Homo sapiens: one gene and its partner. The gene in region 1 interacts genetically with each later gene. Each region holds a gene or a part of one and is shown in the gene's direction. Other genes may lie near its edges.

Region 1 (7,951 bases):
TGTGCATCTTATTTTGTTTCTTGACAGGCTAGAAAGCTTCAAGAGGGTGGGGGTGGGCTCTTATTCATTTCCATACATATTACTATGTACTGACTTCTGCCTGCCTTTTTGCCCCTTCTGCTCCCATCCCCAGGTGGACGCCCTGCTTCATCTGGCCCGCCAGAATCGGGCTGTGGCCCGCACAGCCCAGAATGAACGGTCATCACGCAGCCACAGTGTATTCCAGCTACAGATTTCTGGGGAGCACTCCAGCCGAGGCCTGCAGTGTGGGGCCCCCCTCAGTCTTGTGGACCTGGCCGGGAGTGAGCGACTTGACCCCGGCTTAGCCCTCGGCCCCGGGGAGCGGGAACGCCTTCGGGAAACACAGGCCATTAACAGCAGCCTGTCCACGCTGGGGCTGGTTATCATGGCCCTGAGCAACAAGGTGGGAATGGGAGTGGGGTGAGATACGGGACCTGGGGGACAGTTGGGGTTGGCTGTGCAGAACCCTGCCTATTCCTAAACATCTGTCCCCACCTCAATCATCTAGGAGTCCCACGTGCCTTACCGGAACAGCAAACTGACCTACCTGCTGCAGAACTCTCTGGGTGGTAGTGCTAAGATGTGAGTGAAAGGGACAGATGGAAGGGGTCAGGTAGGAACTGTGTTGGGGTGAGGGGTAGAAAGGGGAACAGTGGAGACCTGTCCAGGCTCTGCTGGCCCCTAATGCTGGGGTTGGGCACATTGTCTTTTCATAGGCTCATGTTTGTGAACATTTCTCCACTGGAAGAGAACGTCTCCGAGTCCCTCAACTCTCTACGCTTTGCCTCCAAGGTGCGATTACCACCCGTCAGCCTTGTCAGGACCCGTGGGTGGTTGTAGGCTTCTCCATTCCAATCCCTTTTGTCTTCTAGGGCAGGGAGCACATTTGTGCAGAAAGGTTTTGCAGGTATCTGAGGCACTGCTCACCTGGTTCCATTTTTAATTATTAGCTTTTGAGTTAAGTTTTTTAAAAAACGGGTGATTAATTTAACCTGAGAAAGCTGATTAAAAAAAAAAGAAAAGGTGACTAAAAGGTCTAAACTGGTTGGGCGTAGTAGCTCATGCCTATAATCCGAACACTTCGGGAGGCCAAGGCAGGAGGATTGCTTGAGCCCAGGAGTTTAAAATCAGTCTGGGCAACATAGTGAGACCCTGTCTCTACAAAAAATAGGAAAATTAGCTGGGTGTAATGGCTCACACCTGTAGTTCCAGCTACTCAGGAGGCTGAGGTGGGAGGATCACCTGAACCTGGGAGGTGGAGGCTGCAGTGAGCCGTGATCCTACCACTGCACTTCAGCCTGGGTGACAGAGTAAGACCTTGTCTCAAAAAACCAACACACAAAAAATCCCTAAGATTCCTCCCTATCAGCATACAGAGATCATTATTTTTAGGTCTGCCTAGACTCCACTATGTAGCTGCACCAAAATTTATCCACCAGTTCCCTCTACTGGACACTTGGATTGTTTCCACACTTTTTTAGTCACAAACAAGGCCACGTTGACTAACTTTGTACATACATCATTTTGTATTTTTCAGTTACATCTAACTAGGGAAATAGTCCTTGAAATGGGATTACTGGATCAAAGACTTAGAGGTTTTTCAGACTATTCCAAATAGTGTGAATTCAGACTCCAAACCTCATGAGGGTCAGCCAGTGGCTATATGAATTCTCACTAATGAGAATTCCTTCCACTAGAATCTCCTTCCACTAGTGTTAAGCAAGTCAGAAAGTTTCCTTACTGTCTGCCTCCACAGTAATTTTTTTCTCTGGTACACCCTCCTCCTGCGCGTATAGCCCTTTGATGGGCTCTGGCTTTATTTGAGGTCTGATCAGGTCTGTCCTGCTGTGCGCTTGGGCCTCCTCCCAGTCAGCACTGATTGTTGCTGTGGAGTAGCCAGCACCTGCACCCTGATCTGGTATTCTACTTTGATGAGGGTTTCCCTCACTATCTTGCAAGTTCAATTTTAGAGGGTGGTGATGTTTTTTCTAACTTTTTATTAATGTTATACCAATGTAACATCCAACAACATGAACTTTAATATCCTCTAATACCCAGTTTATGTTAAATTTCACCCAACTGTCTCAGAAGTGTCTTTTATACATAATAGGTTTGTTCAAATCAGGATCCAGGCAAGGGCCACCCACTTGGTTGAAATGTCTCAAGTTCCACAACCCTATCCCACACTGCCACTATTATGTCGTTTGTTGAAGGTCATTTGTCCTATAGAATATACTATTCTGGATTTTGGCTGGTTGCTTCCTCTTTCCCCCATACTTTCACTTATTTATCATATTTGGGTGTTGTCAACCTGACCCATCCATTTACAAGCTCCTTATTGACTTTTTCACCTAGTGATTTTATCCAGCAGTGACCATACCTGGATCTTTATTTCATTAAGGGGTTTCTAAATGGGGATTTTTCTAATCTTAGTTGTTCTGCATTGGTTAGTCACGATTCTTTTATGAAGACATTTGCCTTGCCATCTACTTGGTTTCTCTGAAATTCAATTCATACAGGAAAAACAAGATAAATGCTGAATTATTTATTGATTTTCAGTATTGAGTTGATATCCTAGCAGCTTCCAAAGGTGACCAATGAATGTTTATCTGAGGGTTATTTTTATTTTTATTTTTTTTGAGACAGGGACTTGCTCTGTTGCCCAGACTGGAATTCAGTGGCTCAATCATAGCTCATTGTAGCCACCAAAAGTGTTGGGATTATAGGCGTGAGCCACCCAGCCCGGCCACAGTCGTTCTTCTTTCTGATGCTCAAATTGCCCCATCTTTAGCCAATAGGAACCTCCTGGCCGGGCGCGGTGGCTCATGCCTGTAACCCCAGCACTTTGGGAGGCTGAGGTGGGTGGATCACGAGGTCAGGAGATCGAGACCATCCTAACACGGTGAAACCCCGTCTCTACTAAAAATACAAAAAATTCACCGGGCGTGGTGGCGGGCGCCTGTAGTCTCAGCTACTTTGGGAGTCTGAGGCAGAATGGCTTGAACCCGGGAGGTGGAGCTTGCAGTGAGCCGAGATCGCGCCACTGCACTCCAGCCTGGGCGACAGAGCAAGACTCCGTCTCAACAACAACAACAAAAAAAAGAGCCTCCTTCAGATTGGTGCCAGTGTCCTTTAGACAGAACTCTAGTAGTCTTTTCAGATTCAACTTGTACATTTCCTTCCCCAGACTTCAACTGATCCATTTTCTAAGGAGTCCTAGTTCCTAAATGGGTGTTATTACTATTTTATCTCGGTTTAAGTGTTTTACAGTGGGAGAGGTTGGAGGTCTCTAGTACAGGGTATTGCTGGAAATGAAAGCCTCCTTTCTCTGCTCCTGTATTTTCTTCTGGGGCTTCCATCTCTTCTCAAGCCTTTTCACCTCCTCCAAACCTAGTGTGCAGAGGAGAACAAACCATAACTGGCACCAGCCTGAACCAGCCTTTGGAGGCCTTATTTCGGTATTTCTGAGGGCAGCCCTAGCATTGGAGGATGGGAGATCTTGGGAAAAATGTTGTATTGGTTACGCTGCAAACTTTTATCCTGTCTAACCCCCTGCCCCCAGGTGAACCAGTGTGTTATTGGTACTGCTCAGGCCAACAGGAAGTGAAGACGGATCCAGATCTGTGTGTGTGTGTGTGTGTGTGTGTGTGTGTGTGTGTGTGTGTGTGTGTCCCTATGTCTATGTATCGGGTGAGGGGTGGGAGGGTTGCTGGAGGGTGCTTTATTGGGTGGAGGGCACCATGTCCCAGGGCTATCAAATAAAGAATAGTTTGGTTTTTTTTTTAAATAAAGGTTTTATTAGCATTTGCCCAAGAAGGCAGATACTTTCATATCTGTAAAAGTGGGAGCTGTGATCTGTACCCTCTGCCAAACGTTTACGTGGGAGGCGGGAGCGGGGGCTGAGGGCTTCGTCTTTTCTCCCCTCTGCTATCACCGGTTCTGGACCTTGGCCTGGATCATCTTCCCCTCTGCTAATACCCCCTACCCCGTCCGTCACATCAGGGAGGTGTGCCCTCTAGCTATCCACGCCCCCTCCTTGGTCACTAGTTATAGGTAACTTTCACCCTTCCGCCGGCCACCCCAGCCCCAGGGAAGAACGTTCCTTTGGTGGGTGTCGGCAAATGGGGACCGGACCCCAGAGTCCAGAGGCGGGGCTAGCGCGCGCTCCCAAACTGTTGGCTCTTTCCTCCCGTCCCGCCCTTTCCCTGCCTTTCCGTTCGAACGGCTGGGGCTCTGCCCGCTCGCTGCCCATTGGCTGGCTCTCGGTGGCGTCACCGCCTTGGGTCCTCGCGCCCTTCGTCTGCGCCAGCCCTGGAAGCACGGGGCGGGACGTCCACGGGAAGCGGCGCGCACGCCCGCCGACTCCCTCGCGCCAACCGCCGACGGCCGCCGCCCGGTGAAGGAGGGGCTCAGTCCTCCCAGGTGCCGCGCGCAGGAGGGGACACGCGTGCGCAAAAGGGCGGTGGGTGGGGCGCGACTCGTCACGGGGAGGGCGGGGCGCGCGAGGGAGGAGGGCGTGGTGGGGGCATCGAGAAGGGTGAATGGAGGGCGGGGCTGTGAACTGGGGCCGGGGGGCGGGACTTGGAGTGACCATGGGGGGTGGGGCAGCTAACGGATGTGGCATGGGGCGGGGGACCAGGCCGGAGGCGGGCTGCCGGGAGGGGGGATTCCCTCGTGCCCCAAGGGCGAATCTCAGGTCGGAGGAAGGGGCTGAGGGGATTCCCTCTCCCACCGGGTCCGACTCTTCGCTCCCCAAGCCGCGGAGGGCCAGCCTCTTCTTCGGCGCCCTCCAGGCCTGTTGGAGGTGAGGGAGGTGGGGTGAGGTGGTGCCCGCCCCCCCCTCCGGCTCCTCCTTTCCCCCAGTCCTCCCCTCCCACCACCCTCCCCCCCAACCGGTCCGTCCCTCCCCTCCCTCCCTCCCCCCCGCCGCCTCCTCCTCCTGCCGCTGCCGCTGCTTTGGCTGCTGCGTCATACGCCCCAGAGCCGCCGGGACGGAGGGGCTGGGCCTGGGGACCCCCCGGCCTCCGCCTGCACGCCCCCCCACGCCCGGACGTGCCCTCTCCGCGCGGGGGACTCGCCTAGGTCTCCTACGTCTGCCCCTGCCCGGCTCCCGGCGGCCCCAGCTGTCACCGGTAAGGAGGCGGCAGGAGGCGCTGGTGGGGGGCAGGGAGCCGGGGGTCGGCGCGGGGCGCGGGCGGGAGAGCCTCGCCGCCTTGGCCTCGGGTCCGGGCTGGGCCGACACAAGTCCCTTCTCGGACTTGCCGTCCTGGGGAGTAGAGACCGGGACTGGGACACGCCCCCCTCCCGGGGCACTCAGAGAAGTTGTCTAACCCGGGGGCAGGGAGCCCCGAATTTGAGGGTGACCTGACATAACCTGGCACCAGGATGATTGTTCTTAATGAGACGCGCAGGCCTGGGGAGACAGCCGTTTCTGCTCTGGAAAACATCTCCAGAAAAGGTCCCAAAACACGTCTCTGGGCAACAGGACACCCTAATTATGATACCTCTAAACTGAGTAGCCTTTGCTTCTACAACCATAATTTCTCCTAAAATTTCAAGGCCAGTATATAATATCCCAGGAGAGCTCTGGAAGCTGGGAAACTAGCAACTAGGTTTGGGGTCGGGGGGAGGGCTGTTAGTTACCGAGAGGAGAGCCAGTCACTAGAGTTGGAAGAGGACTCAAAAAGCTGGTGATGGGTGCCCAGTGGTTTCCTATCAAGGTGTCTCAGGGATTTGGAGATGGGGGCACAGATACTTCATTCTTGATGGCAAAATAGGCAAAGAAAATGGGGAGGCTGGCCGGGCCCGGTGGCTCACGCCTGTAATCCCAGCACTTTGGGAAGCTGAGGTGGGTGGATCATGAGGTCAGGAGTTCGAGACCAGTTTGGCCAACATGGCCAACACCTCATCTCTACTAAAAATACAAAAATTAGCCAGGCATGGTGGCATGCGCCTGTAATCCCACCTACTTGGGAGACTGAGGCAGGAGAATTGCCTGAACCCGGGAGGTGGAGGTTGCAGTGAGCCAAGATTGTGCCACTGCACTCTGGCCTGGGCGACAGAGCAAAACTCCATCTCAGGAAAAAAAAAAAAAAAAGAAAAAGAAAATGGGGAAGGTTTCTCAGCATTCATAACCTTCTCCTCCCCATTTCTTTTCTGGCTAGGCCCCCCCAGGATGCAATGGCGCAGCCCCCCCGGCTGAGCCGCTCTGGTGCCTCCTCACTTTGGGACCCAGCTTCTCCTGCTCCCACCTCTGGCCCCAGGCCTCGGCTTTGGGAGGGTCAAGATGTGCTGGCCAGATGGACTGATGGGCTGCTATACTTGGGTACCATCAAAAAGGTAAGACCTTCTACCTCTGACCTTCTTCCTAGTTCCCTTATCTAATTCTGGTTCCCATTTCATCCTGTTTGCTCACCCATTCCAGGTGGACAGTGCTAGGGAGGTGTGTCTGGTCCAGTTTGAGGATGATTCGCAGTTTCTGGTTCTATGGAAAGACATTAGCCCTGGTAAGACTCTAGAGACCTGAGATTGCACATCCCATGGAAAACAAACCTGGCCTAGAGGGGCAGAAAGAGACTTAAAGGCAGGCCCTGTGACACTGTGTTCTCTCACAGCTGCCCTCCCTGGAGAGGAACTCCTCTGTTGTGTCTGTCGCTCTGAGACTGTGGTCCCTGGGAACCGGCTGGTCAGCTGTGAGAAGTGTCGCCATGGTGAGAGGGCAGGTCACCTGAATGGTCCAGCTTGCTCTTCCCTCCAGGATGGTCTCTATATCACCTGTCCTGGCCTTAGTCCCCAAGCCACTGCTCTGGCCAGGCTGCTTAGCCTTATCTTAGTCCTCATCCGCTTTCAGCCCAGGGAGAAGCAGCCATGGAAAGGGGTGGTATAACCTTTGCAGGCAGAAGATGGTTTAAATGCATCCTTTTCTAACCATATGACCTCGGACAAGTCCCTTAACCTCTAGGAGCCTCAGTTCCCTGACTTGTAAAATAAGGATAATGCACCCCCTCATCAAGACCATGGTCAGGGATTAAATGAGATGGGTAAAGACTATTCCTGTCCCAATACCAAGCACACACAGGTATGCAATAAGTGGTCTACTATTATCACTGCAGCTTATCACCAGGACTGCCATGTTCCCAGGGCTCCAGCCCCTGGAGAGGGAGAGGGCACATCCTGGGTATGCCGCCAGTGTGTCTTTGCGATCGCCACCAAGGTAAAGGCACTTCCCTGTTACCCTTCCTGTGGGAGCCTCCCATCCACAGCCTCTCCCAAGCCTTTTCCTCTCCCCACCCCTCTGAAGCCACCCACCTGTCCTGTCTCTGCAGAGGGGAGGTGCCCTGAAGAAGGGCCCCTATGCCCGGGCCATGCTGGGTATGAAGCTTTCTCTGCCATATGGACTGAAGGGGCTGGACTGGGATGCTGGACATCTGAGCAACCGACAGCAGAGTTACTGTTACTGTGGTGGCCCTGGGGAGTGAGTAATGAGAGGGGAGCAGACTGTGGAATGAATGATGTGGTGGTGGATCCCAGGAAATGAAGGAAAAAGAACAGGATGAGGGTAGCACTCAGGGGGATAGGAGGTAAGTTTAGGGTTTGGGACAGTTATGGGGAAGGGGGTTTCTGGAGGCCAGAAGTCCTGTGTTCCCCCTCAGGTGGAACCTGAAAATGCTGCAGTGCCGGAGCTGCCTGCAGTGGTTCCATGAGGCCTGCACCCAGTGTCTGAGCAAGCCCCTCCTCTATGGGGACAGGTGAGACCAAGGCAGACTCTCTAGGAGCCAAGGATGCCCTCTTTCTTCGTGTTCCACCCTCAGTTCTCCCACGCCCTTCTCCACTCCAGTCTCTTCCCAACCTCTGCAGCGTTACCTCACCTGTTTGCCCCGTCCTTGCTTGTGAGTCTTCCAGGGGATGGCACAGTTTTCCTGTGTAAGTG
Region 2 (7,020 bases), on another chromosome or scaffold:
TCCGAAAGGCCTGGGGCTGTGCCAGCTGCAGCAGGTGCCTCCCAGGCCCGGCCAGAGGGCCCCAGGCAAGGGGGTGGAGCCCGGGTGGGGGTGATGAGGATGCTGGGGTCCACTTTTGTAGCGCCAGAGGCGACGGGCTCTGTCTGGTTGTAGCATCACAGAGCTTGATGGGAACTTTCACTCTGAGACCCCTTTTATGGATAAGAAAACTGAGGCTGGGGGGCAGGAGCAGCTTACCCCAGAGGTCCTCTCTCCCAGAGGGCTAGGGTGGGGATAAGCAGGGTCTCGGGGGCAGCAAGACCCAGCTCCAAATGTGGTTTTTCTGCCTTCTGGCTGTGTGACTCAGAAGGGTTGCTCAGCTTCTCTGTGCTGTTATGGTTTGTCAGTGCAGTGTGGCAGGTGTGTGTCTTGCTTGTGGAATGCAGTGTCTAGCCTGGTATCCTTAGAAAGTGGCTGAGGTTGGAGATTGGTGGGGCAGAGTCCCTGAAGCTGACCCATTCTTGCCTTCAACCTTCAGGGAGACGCTGCTGGAAGTGGTGAGCTGAGAGCACTGGGCAGGAGTCAGAGCCTAGCGTCTCCCTGTGGAGCTGGGTGCACCCACGTGGGTGGGTGCCCTTGCCAGGGAGCTCACACCCTTGGGGGTCCATGAGCTGGCAGGCAGGGCTACCTGGCTTGGTGTGCCCTTGGGTGGAGGCTCCCATGGGGCCCTTCAGACTGGGCACAGCCCTCCTGTCCTCTGCTCCCCAGCCTGCTTGCCCACCTGGAGGTGGGAGGAGGCGAGGGTTGCCGGCACAGCTGGGCCAGGCTGATGGTGATGTTTTCTGGAAGTGTGGGTGGGGAGAGCCTGGCAGGGGGAGGGGGGGTCGTGCTCTCAGCTGGGCCCCTTGATGACCTCAGATTGCAGGGACCAGGTTGTTTGAGAGCTGCAAGCAGGGCCACACCTCCAGGGACCCTGTGCTGGGGGTACCACCCTTGCCGCTCCACCCTGCTCTGAGGGCCCTGGGTGGCCAGGGCGGGCACAGAGTGGGTGGTGATGCCAGCTGCATCCCTGGGGTTCATAGTCTGGGGAGCACATGAGTTCCCGGCACAATGCTCCCAGGAGGCAGAGCCAGGAGTCGCAGGGAGGCGTTTGCTTGAGAGGGTCTGGGAGGGCTTCCTGGAAGAGGGGGCATCAGTGCCGAGCCTCAGAGTTTGTGGAGCCCGCCGCCTGGCTGAATCCTGCCTGCCGGTGTTACCTCAGGGTGTTCCTCGTTGCAGTGCCTCAGTTTCCTCACCAGTACGCTAGGAGAGACCAGCGTAGCCAGCCACAGCGGGGTCGTGAGGATTAAGTGAGGGGACAGCAGTGTCTGGCACGGTGGGTGCTGAGTAAATTCATGGAGGAGTGCCCGGGCGGTGGGGCTGGTGGGCTGGGCAGGGGGTCTGAACTGGAGGGACTCGGGCGCCCTCCTCCTCAGGGTGCAGGACAGCACCTGCACGGCGGGGCCGCATTTCCATTTCCAAAGCTGGGCGCGCTCTGTCCAGGCCTCCCCACCAGGAGCGCGGCCCGGCGGCTCCTGCCCTCCGGACCCCCAGCCCACAGGCCCGTGCAGCCCCATGAGGGGGCCAGGGGGAGCTCCGAGGTTCTAGGGAGGGCGCGCACCGGGAGAGGGCGCCGGGCCGGCCGGCGGGAGGAAGGAGGGGTCCCGGGCGGCAGCGCCCCCGGCCCTCGCCGCGCCCCGCACTTCCCTTTCCTGGCTGGGCTTCCTCTTCCCCGCGCCCGCCCTGCGCGGCCCCTTTGTTTCCCGGGCAGGGCGCGGCTATATTTAGGCGGCAGGTGTGGGAGCCCCCGGCAGCCGGGTCGCCCGCCGGTCACGCCCCCCACGTGACGCCCGGGCGCTATAAATAGCCGCAGGCGGCGGTGGCGGCAGCGCCTGGAGCCGGCTCCGCGGCGGAGGGGCGGCGCCCCGACCCAGGGCCAGCACCGTGGGCACCGCCAGGCCGGCGCGTATGGAGGCGGTGGGACGCCTGCGGCGCGGGTGAGCCTGGCAGGTGGGGACGCGGCGGACCCAGGCCTTCCGGGACCCCAGCCCCGCCGGGGAGGAGGTGGCGCCCTCCGGAGGGCTGGGCGGGAGCCCCGCTGGCACCCAGGGAGGGGGCCGCGCCCCTTACCACGACCCCACCCGCGACTGGTTCCCCGGGACTCCCCAGAGCGCCCGCCTCAGCCCTGACCGCGGCGCAGCTTACTTCTCCTGAGACCCGCTGAGCCCCGGGCCTCCAGCCTCCTCCCCCAAAATCACAGGGGGCGCCCTGTCTGAAGCGGGGGCTGGATTCAAACTTCTTAAGCTGCTGTGCCATCGGGAAGGAGGGCGGTAGCCTCCCTGAACCTCGATTTCCTCTTCTGTGCAGGGCGCTGCGTGTTGTTCCTGCCTCCTAGATTTGAGCCAGAGAGAACCCAGTTAACTGGACGCCTGGTGTGGCCCTGGTGGAGAATGTTCTCCCCTCTCCCTGGCTTGTTTCCTCATCTCGCAAACAGGGACAAGGATGGACTCTCCCTTAAAGGGTCTTGAGAAATAGCTGAGGGCTCTGGGCCTGCTGGCCCGAGGAGGCTGAGCCAGATCTTGGGAAGGGTTCTGCAGGGCTTGGTAGCAGGAGGGAAGGAGGTAGCAGGAGGGAAAGAGGGGCCACGGCTGCCAGTGGGTCCCCGTGCTGTGGGCCGCGGGCCTGGTGGGGGTGGTAGCGACTCAGGACACATGGAGGCAGGGGCAACCTGTCCCCATTTCGCAGATGGGAAGCCTGAGGCTTTGGCTTCAGGGAGTTCTCAGTGCCCATCCCTGGGGATCCTTAACCCTTGCTCTCAGGGCCCTACCTGGTGACCTCACTGGGGGCGTGTGGTTATGGAGGGGTTTTCTCCCTTGGGGGACAGCCACCAGGCAGGGCAGAGCCACATAGTGGTGCCAGGGCATCATTGCTTTGCTCTCACCTGGGGCAGGGGTAGGGGCCCTAGGCTGCAGAGACAAGTGGGATGTGTGGCAAGACCCTGGTCCAGCCTCTCCCTGGACCCCTAACCCCATTCTAGCCTGGGCTGTGACCCCTGAGCGTAGCCCAGGCTAACCCCCTGATTCCGGCAGATGTGTGGCATCCTTAGGCCTTCAGTGGGGGGTAGTGTGGGGTGGTTCGGAGCCTCCTCCCTCCCAGTAGCCTGCAGCCCTGAGGACCTGTGCAGGGCCACTAGGCAGCAGGTCCAGGCCACGTGCTGGTGCCTGTGGGGTCTTCCTGGGTCCCTGGCAGCTGTAGGTGTGAGGGGTTGGTCAGCCCCTCAGGGAGAGGCCCAATACTGTGGTTTCTCTGGTGCTTTTCTTCCTTTCTTTCTGTAAACATGAGCTCGGCTCCCGTGTGCACACACACAGGGACATCCTGCTGCCCCAAGAGGGACCCAGGTGTTTGTGTGCTGTTAGCACGTGGTGGCTTCCCTCACCCACACTCAGAGCCTGTGCTCCCTCCAGTCGGGCAAGGTGGGGACTGGCGGGACCAGGGACAGTATCCTTGTCTCCACCTTTACCTCCTTCTGGGGGTCCCACCCCACCACCGGTTTTTTTTTTTTTTTTTGAGACGGAGTTTTGCTCTTGTTGCCCAGGCTAGAGGGCAATGGAGCGATCTCGGCTCACTGCAACCTCTGCCTCCAGGGTTCAAGCGATTCTCCTGCCTCAGCCTCCCGAGTAGCTGGGATTACAGGCATGCACTTCCATGCCTGGCTCATTTTTTATTTTTTTATTTTTAGTAGAGATGGGGTTTCTCCATGTTGGTCAGGCTGGTCTTGAACTCCTGACCTCAGGTGATCCGCCCGCCTTGGCCTCCCAAAATGCTGGGATTACAGGAGTGAGCCACTGCGCCTGACACCCACCGCCCATTTTAACCTTCCCAGAACCATGCAGTGGACAGAGCCTGAGGTGTGGCGGCTGCTCTGAGCCCATGAGCACTGGCTGCCACCCAGGGTGTGGAGGGCAGGCAGGGAGGAGCCCACTGTCCCAGGTAGCCACCCTCTGAGTCCAGGGGCCCAGGCCTCAAGCCCTACCTGCACCTGGGCTGAAGCTCCAAGGGCCCAGCCTGCCTGGTGGGCAGCTGGGAAGGGGGTGCTGGGGCTGGGGCAGGGGCACAGGTGAGAGGGGGTGGGTTGGGGAATGGAGGGCTCTGCTGGGCGAGGGGCCCTGAAGTGCCTTTCCTTGGGTAGCAGGCAGTAGTGACAGGGCCGGGCTTGGGTTGAGTCTAGGGGGCTGGAGAGTCTGCTAACAGCTGGGTCACAGCCAGGGCCAGCAGTGCGGGGACCCCTCAGCAGCAGTGCCCAAATACAGCTTGGGTCACTTGTGTCACCCCTCATCGTGCTCATGGGGTAACAAAGAGGCCGGCACCTTGCTCAAGGCCTCCCAGCCCTTCCGTAGAGAGGGAAGGGGGCTGCGTGCTCCTGGAACCCCTTTGCCTGGGAGCTTTGGGGTCATGAGACCCAGAAAGGGAGAGAGGCAGGCGTGGAGGTGCCTTGGGTTGCTGTGGCCCCCCCTGCCGCCTCCCCTCTTCAGGGCCCTGTCATGGTGTGAACCCACTCCTGGCCACCTGTGCTGTCACCACCTTGGCATGTGTGCCTGATGGCTGGCCCATTGGCGTGTTCTGTCCCCGCCTCCCTGAGCTCCTGGAGGGGCAGAGCTGGCCTGTTTATCCCCGAGCCTGGCTGAGACCTGTGTGAGCAGTGGAGACACAGTGGCGGGGGGACACTGGTGGACAGGGGGCTGCTGACAGGCAGGAGACTTTCTGCAGAAAGCAAGAGGCGATTAGGGTGGCCCACGGCCGCGTGTGGGGCCAGGCCCCTCACCTCCCTGTGCTGGCAGCACTGACCGAGTGCCTGGGCCCCATTCCCTGAGGATGGGCCACCCAGAGACACCTGGGCTCAGATGTTCACAGTGGCTGAGAATCGGAAGAGGAGAGGGCAGCTGTCCTGGGGTGGAGTTTCCGCAGATCACAGCAGGTGGGCAGGGGCCAGGCTCAGGCTTCTTAGGAACTCGGCCTCTGTCCCCACAGAGGGATCTGTCATCTGTGTGCTGGGGTTCATCATGTCCTCGGGGGTGTGTGTGTCCCTGAAATCCCTGTCCCCTCTGTCCTCCGTCATGCCCTGCTGGCTGTGTGGTGGCTACCCTGTCGCCTCTGGGCCCTGGGTCAGTCCTGGCAGGAGCCGTGCTTCCTTGTGCTCCCATATAAGGAAATAGACCCAAAAGGGTCATTCTCTCAGCATGGTCAGGAGGAGGGCTCTGGGAGAGGTGTCGCCTGTGACTGTGGGCTCATGACAGGCATGAACCCCTTGTGGGAGGCGGGGCCCCCTGTGATCCCTTTCTATTCATTTCCTTCGTCTTTCCCCACAGATGCTGTGTGCTGTGGACCCACCTGGGGTTCATGGAGTGGGCCACGGGGCCCAGCCCTAAGCACTGCTGCGCCCAGGGTCGCCGCGCCTCCTGCTGAGGGGTCCCCGTGCCACTGGCTCTCACCATTGCCCTCGCCTGCCGATGGCCTCTGCTGCCCAGCCTGGGGCCAGCTCTACCGCCTGAGCCCCCTGCCCCACTCCAGGACTCACCGTACCCCGATGGGGTAACGTGACACAGGCCCCACACGTCAGAGGCCGCTGTCCCCACGGCCACTGCCCGTGACCCCTGGCCCAAGGCAGCTGGAGTTGGTTCAGTTCAAGTTCATTCTTCCTCTGGCCCTTGGGGGCTTGGGGCCCACCTCTGAGTGAAGGGGGCTGTCTGCCCATCCACCAATGTGGAGAGGGCGCCCCCGGTGTGGGGTCCAGCTCTGGACACTGCTTGGCGGCCGGGTTCACTTTGAGTTTTTAAGTTTTCTTTGCTGAGCTTTTTTGGTTGTTCTTTTTATTTTTTGCCTCTTTATGACTATCCAGCTCTGAGAGACGGGAGTTTGGAGTTGCCCGCTTTACTTTGGTTGGGTTGGGGGGGGCGGCGGGCTGTTTTGTTCCTTTTCTTTTTTAAGAGTTGGGTTTTCTTTTTTAATTATCCAAACAGTGGGCAGCTTCCTCCCCCACACCCAAGTATTTGCACAATATTTGTGCGGGGTATGGGGGTGGGTTTTTAAATCTCGTTTCTCTTGGACAAGCACAGGGATCTCGTTCTCCTCATTTTTTGGGGGTGTGTGGGGACTTCTCAGGTCGTGTCCCCAGCCTTCTCTGCAGTCCCTTCTGCCCTGCCGGGCCCGTCGGGAGGCGCCATGGCTCGGATGAACCGCCCGGCCCCGGTGGAGGTGAGCTACAAACACATGCGCTTCCTCATCACCCACAACCCCACCAACGCCACGCTCAGCACCTTCATTGAGGTGAGTGGAGACGGAGGTGTGGCAGGCAGGTGGCCCAGGTGTCTGGGAAGCCCGGCTGAGCTGCCCTCAGGCCTCGCAAGAGGGGTCCCCAGCCCCGGCTGGCCAGACAGGGCTCACAGCCTTGGAACAAAGCCCAGTCGCCTGTTACAGGATCCTGGAGGAGGGAGATGGGGGTGCCCCGGGGGTTGGGGTTGAGGGTGTTGGGGGATCAACGGGGTCCCCTGGGAGGCCTGCAGGGGGCTGGCGTGTGATAGGAGGGACTCCACGCTGTGTGGATAGAGGCAGGGGGTGAGGCAGGGGGATACATGGACCAGGCTGTGCGTGCTCAGCCGTGGCCTGGGCTGGGGCCCTCCCGAGCCCTTTGCTGTCCCAGATGTTGCTGGGCTCTGGATGAGGCCTCAGGTTAGACCAGGCTGGACTAGGGGCTTCAGGGCCCAGATCTCTGTGTGAGGAGGGACTGAGCAAGGGTCAGCGCTGACCACAGGAGGGAGGGACCACTGTGCCCTGGAGAGGCAGCAGAGATACCTGCCGCTGGCAACCCTGGCAGATGGGACGAGATGCGTTTACAGAAGCTTTCTTGGGAGTGGAGTCTGGAGCGACCTGCATGGCCTCCTGGAGGAGCCTGGCCTCTGCAGAACGCCCTGCTGTTTGCAGGCCTGGGGCCGTTTGCAGCGTCTG

The links. A genetic interaction does not mean that the proteins touch.
Region 2: changes in PHF1 (region 1) and PTP4A3 together harm fitness less than expected from each alone (positive genetic interaction), as found in Homo sapiens cells (one study listed by BioGRID).

Annotation. Positions count from the first base shown.
Region 1 is NC_000006.12:33,406,063-33,414,013, forward strand, and holds the start of PHF1 (PHD finger protein 1), read left to right. Parts: upstream 1-4,951; 5' UTR 4,952-5,153; intron 5,154-6,185; coding exon of another isoform or gene 6,186-6,201; coding exon 6,202-6,360; intron 6,361-6,445; coding exon 6,446-6,527; intron 6,528-6,635; coding exon 6,636-6,731; intron 6,732-7,133; coding exon 7,134-7,234; intron 7,235-7,346; coding exon 7,347-7,495; intron 7,496-7,673; coding exon 7,674-7,769; intron 7,770-7,951. Other genes in the region: kinesin-like protein KIFC1, read left to right, coding at 134-424, 530-603, 738-813, 3,584-3,628. UniProt on the Homo sapiens protein: Polycomb group (PcG) that specifically binds histone H3 trimethylated at 'Lys-36' (H3K36me3) and recruits the PRC2 complex. Involved in DNA damage response and is recruited at double-strand breaks (DSBs).
Region 2 is NC_000008.11:141,416,004-141,423,023, forward strand, and holds part of PTP4A3 (protein tyrosine phosphatase type IVA 3), read left to right. Parts: intron 1-122; exon of another isoform or gene 123-1,354; intron 1,355-1,905; exon of another isoform or gene 1,906-2,028; intron 2,029-2,385; exon of another isoform or gene 2,386-5,384; 5' UTR 5,385-6,237; coding exon 6,238-6,342; intron 6,343-7,020. UniProt on the Homo sapiens protein: Protein tyrosine phosphatase which stimulates progression from G1 into S phase during mitosis. Enhances cell proliferation, cell motility and invasive activity, and promotes cancer metastasis.